2 separate regions of the Homo sapiens genome follow, and region 2 is linked to region 1. The links come from fine-mapping of genetic effects on gene expression. Tissue or cell type: lung. Region 1 holds a variant in brackets; the other region holds the start of a gene. All regions are shown on one strand. Distances are from middle to middle.

Region 1 (2,755 bases):
GTGGCTTATGCCTGTAATCCCAACACTTTGAGAAGCCGAGGTGGGCAGATCACCTGAAGCCAGGAGTTTGAGACCAGGCAGGCCAGCATATAGTGAAACCCCATCTCTACTAAAAATACGAAAATTAGCTGGGTGTTGTGGCACATGCCTGTAGTCCCAGCTACTTGGGAAGCTGAGGCAGGAGAATTGCTTGAACCTGGGAGGCAGATCATGCTACTGCACTCCAGCCTGGGTGACAGAGTGAGACTCTGTCTCTCAAAAAAAAAAAAAAAAAAAAAAAAGTAAATTGGATCATATCACTCCCTTACATAAAAACTTCAAATGCACATAAATAAAACTCAAACTCCTAAGAAAGAAAAAGAAAGCAAGGGAAAGAATAGCGTGTTTAGAATGGTGTCATTTGCAGGCTTGAGAAAGAACAAACATGGCAGGGTGGAGGGAGATGTTCTCACTATACACCCCATGTACCTCTTGGCTTCTAAAATATATGCATAGAAGTACAACAATATTTTATTCCTTCCTGTATTTCCAAAATGTTCTAAAATGAGCATGTACTTCTTGTTGTAATCATTTAGAGAAAACCTCAAAAATAAAGGACTTAATTTCCACGTAGTCTTTGGAGTTAGCTCCTCATTGTTTTAAAGCTATGTTTCTTCGTCTCTCGCTTTGGTGTTCCAAATGAACAGTTTGAAAAATAGCAAGCCTCATTGCTCCCTTTAAAAATGCACACCAATTTTCTTTGCTTGGATCTAATAATCACTAAATTTTCTTCCTATTTTAACATTTATTGTTTACGTCAGCGGCTCTTAATCTTTATTGTGCCAGAGATCACACCTGGGAGGCTGTTAAAATGCAGATTCTCAGGATTCTACCCTCAGACATTCTGAGTCAGTGGGGGCCCTGGAATCTGCATTTTAACATTACTACAGGAGATTCCTATGCAGGTGCGTGGTCTATAGACCATACTTTTCAAAACGTTCATCCATGACTTGTTAAGGAAAGAGTATTTTTCACATAGAAGTGAAAATCCTATATAGTATAGAATTTAGGACTGCAAGTGATCTCTCCCTTGAACACACACACACACACCTTACACCTTTATAAACATTCACATTATGTCCTGTACTTTATAATACAGTTTGTGTGCACTCATCTTGTCTTCTCTCTCAGATTTTTGAGAATGGGATCCAAGTCTTTATGTAGCCTAGTGCTCCAAAGTTGTGAAATAAAATTATGTGTGATAGAAACCAAAGCATATGGTTCAAAAGTTACTTTCTTTGGCTTAGGGAGTTGGTTTTCTCTGCCAACTATGTAAATTCTTAGTCATTCCACCTCCCCTTCCCGCAAAGCTTAGCTATGTGCAAGCAACTGTAACACTGCCTGCTAAGTCTAGAGAGGGGCTGCTGTTTTATTTT[T/A]AAATACATATATAAATCACTTCTGGTAGCTTTCTATGCCTTTCCCAGGACCTCTGATGGGCCCTTTCCTCTGTGAGTTTTAAACTGAAAAAAACATCTGAAAAAGCAGCACAAGCGGTTGAGATAAACATCCCAGAGGGTTTTCCACATTACGTAAATTTTCAAGTGTGATGTGAAGGGACCCGTGAGGTATAGTGGCAGCTCTACGCCACCGCCTGGCGGCAACATGCTTCATGACATCCCAACCCCACCCCTGCATCCCCGGGCTCTTAGGGACGCTCATCCTATGCAGGAGCTCATATGTGTGTGTCCCCAGCAGCGCCAAATCCAGGGCATCTACAAATATTTGCTGGTATGAGTGGCAGGAACTAAAAACACACAGCTCGAATTTTGATGTCTTCTGCCCAACTGAGGGTCACTGGTTCTTTCAATTCTGTAACTTTCTAAGATTTTGCAGCACAGAGCTTTTTGATTGACGCACAGATCAGTCAAAAGGCAAATGTGAAAGACAGCCTATACTCAAAGCATAACTCTAATAGCACAAAATACACATGCCTAAGTCATCACTGGCAAAGCTCCAAAGCTTTTGAGAAAGATCATTATACCCATCCACAGGGCCACTCACCCCCACCCAAACCTGAAACACTTAGAATAGGTCAGGGCTAGCATGAAAGTGATTGAGTCCCAGAGGTATAGCTCAATGACTTGGCCTAAAGAGCAGAGAGAAAAGAGAACTGAGTAAAGGTTTACCAGTGTGAAGGATGCTCACATAGGCCTCCAGGGACTCCACATCCACTGAGATTAGGAGACAAAATAACCCCAGATGGCGGGGATGGGGGTGGCAAAAGTTCTTTCAGTAAACATAAAGAACTTCCTAGGAAGTACCTGGAATCTTCTTTAGGGGTTCACTAGAAACAAATTATCTTTAGTTGGGAATAAATGATGGCCCTGCCCAAGGTTGGGGGTGGGGAACACACTTGATGGTATTTTGGGGTCCCTTCCAACTTTAGATGTAGAGTCTTGTTGAACAGTCCCTATCAATAGGCAAGATGGGATAATGTGAATAAAAGCAAAAACCAAGTTACTTGTTAGACTTGGACACAAACGACTTCACTCGTGTATAAAGCTATCACAGTGACTGCATCTACCTCTGGGATTTCAAGTTCCCTGATGACAGAAGAATCCTTTAATGGAAGCTGCATGCTGGGTTAATGGTCAGGCTGTGAGTGGAAATTCTGAGATCAATAGGCCTAAATTCGGAAAATCAAGGCTGCACCTAAAACCTAATGGTCTGATCAGAGCACCAAATACTTATTGTTCTTTCTTCTTCTCCCTGCCAG
Region 2 (2,627 bases), 53 kb before region 1:
TAAACGAGTCTCAGGTGGTGGAACCAGAGCTTGCTGGAGAGGAGAGTCTCTCCTGGTGAATGGAAGCCAGGGGCCCCTCCCACTGGCTGTCTCCTTCCCTGGGCTCAGGCAGGTCCAGCCTTCCTCAGGACTTTGAGAAGTTCAGTTCTCTCCCCAGGAGTAGCTACTTTCACAAACTTCCTGTCCCTTTAGTCGACATGCCCCACGGCAGGTCCGAGGCTGGGCTCTGCCACAACTCATCTTTCCTAAGAGTGGCATCAAGGTTCTTTGGTGGGGGATCCTCTTTTCCCATCCCCACTTCTCAAGAGCATTAGGGAAGATACAGTCAGTGCCCTCTTAGCATTCTCTTTCCACTTGTTGGGTGTAAGAAGGGAACCTGAGGGCCCTGCAGTGTTTAGGGGTGGGAGTGGAAACAGACAGGAAAGATCCAGAGTCCCCAAGAAGCGAAGCAGGGAGAGAGATAAAGAAGGCAGGAACAACCATGGACACACATTATCACACATACACAGGTTACAAGAGCAGGAGGCTGGAGCTGCAAGAGGTGGCAGGGAAGCTTCCAGAAAGGCAGACCCCAGCCTCATCCCTCCCTGCCCTGCAATGCTGAAGTTTCCAGGTAGAGGGGAACCTCTAGACCCTTGCGACTGTCAGAGTTCTGTGGATCCATTTGTCAGTCTCCCCACCCCCAACCTTGACTATCCTGGGCCTGCCTTCAGGACAGAACATGGGAATGAGAAGAGGACCTGGGAAGGGGTAATCCTGGGAAAAAAAAGTTCTTATTAGTCACCCCTGGCTCTGAGGATACTTTCCAGGAGTGGCCTGCCAAGCCGTGTGACCTTGGACAAGTCCCGTCCATTCCTCAGGCCTCAGTTTCCTTTGAGGGACCCTGAATGGGCGGGGGTTGCTGTAGCTTTCCTCAGCTGGGAGACCCGGGAGGAGGTCCGGGGTGCCAGGGTGGGAGGAGGGCCTGGCTTGTCGCTGAAAGCCGGCCAGGCGCACTGTCGGCGCTCAGAGCTGGTGGCCGCCTCCTGCGCTTCCTGATTCCCAGCCGCGCTCGCTCGGAGAGCAGTGCCCGCTATCTCCTGGCCCGGGACCGGCAGAGGGGTGCGGCGGGGCGGGCCCAGGGGTCTCTGGCGGCCGGAAGAACCGGGACCCTGCCAGGCCCCTCCCGCGGGCAGGGCGGCCCCTCGCCGGCTCCTCCCCCACCGCCCGCCACCAGCCCGGGATCAGTCTCCGCACGCGGTTCCGCAGGTGGCAGCGATGGCCCAGTCCTGAACTCCCCGCCATGGCCGGCGCCCCCGGCCCGCTGCGCCTTGCGCTGCTGCTGCTCGGGATGGTGGGCAGGGCCGGCCCCCGCCCCCAGGTGAGATCCAGGGACCCCGACGACACCGGGGGAGGCGGGTGGCTCTGCGGGCTGCAGGCGCAGTGTCCTGGTGGAGGGCCCCGGGACTTGAACGAAACTCCGAGACCGCTGGCGGGGGCATCCGAAAGCCTCGGGGGGAGTAGGGACTGGAGACTTGGTGCCCCTGGGCTGGAAGGCCCAGGTGAGGGCTTGGACTACAGAGGATTCCCCCCAACCCCAGCGAGGCGCCCTCTTCCTCGCCACCCGGGTCCCTCTGCCCGGGCACCCGCTGCCCCGCGGCCGCCCTGCGCTGACTTCTGCTCCGCTTCTCCTTTGTCCCCAGCACTTTCCCAACTCCTTCTAAACCGTGTCAGCGGCCCTGGCACAGCCCGGCATCCTCCCGGACTCCCTCTGCCCCACAGTCTGACCCAGACCCCTCTCCCGCAGTGCCTCCCCAGACAATCCACCTGCTCAAAGACCCTGAGAAGACCCTGGGAGGAGCTGAGAGGGCCAGGGTGCGGAGACCCGGCTCCTCTCCCTTTCTCATCAGCCCCCAGCACAGCCTTTGATTCATGGCTCCTGGGGCCCTGCGGTGGCAGCTTGTCCTTCCCAGTGACCTCCCAGATGGAACCTACCCCCCGTCCCCTACCAGCCTCTGTAGCAAACAGGCAGAAGGCTCAGTGCCCCCCTGGAAGCAGCCAGGCGCCCCCACTCACCCACTCTGCTGACCTCCCATTCTCATCCTGCACTGACAGCAGGCCCCAAGAGAAGGCATACTGGGACACGCAAGAACACCTGGGCTCCTTGGTGCCACCAGAGAGCAGGCCACAGGTGGACCACCGCAGCCCCTCTCTCTTGCCCTTGTTGCTTTTCCTGCCCTGGGATCCTGGGCTAGGGACAGTGGTCAGCTGCTTTTGAAGAGGGGAGCTGTCCAAAGATGCTGGGACTTGCTTGAGCAGAGAGGAGACATAGACTTGGGTGGCCTGTCCTGGGTCAGGAAACAGGTTCTTCCTATCACCTCCCACTGCTACCCCCAGACCTAAAGAACTGAGATCTGTGGGGAGTGGACCTGAACGAACCTTGAAGTTTGTCCCAGAACCATTGCCTTGGTGAGGGCAGACTCCACCTCGGCGGAAACCCCAGATGTGGACAGACATACCTCTCAGCTAAGATGCCAGCACATTTTTCAGCCCCCAGATTATTTTCCAGACGCATCCTCTCCCTGCCCCTGTTCCCCAGCCCAGCTGCTGTCCTGAGCCCCAGGAGACAACCTCCCCCTTCCAAGACA

Evidence for each region. PIP is the estimated chance that this variant, and not a neighbour inherited with it, causes the effect.
Region 2: GLP1R starts here. The variant in region 1 is fine-mapped to the expression of GLP1R in lung (GTEx, PIP above 0.99).

The regions. Positions count from the first base shown.
Region 1 is chr6:39,100,836-39,103,590 of GRCh38, forward strand. No RefSeq gene overlaps it. Among named protein-coding and RNA genes, the nearest start is that of SAYSD1, 13 kb to the right of the region's middle. The variant T/A (reference allele first, on the strand shown) is at 1,416.
Region 2 is chr6:39,047,559-39,050,185 of GRCh38, forward strand. GLP1R (glucagon like peptide 1 receptor) reads left to right here and starts at 1,223. Exons shown (of 13, transcript NM_002062.5): 1 at 1,223-1,360. The coding sequence starts at 1,283. RefSeq lists an enhancer at 1,907-2,407.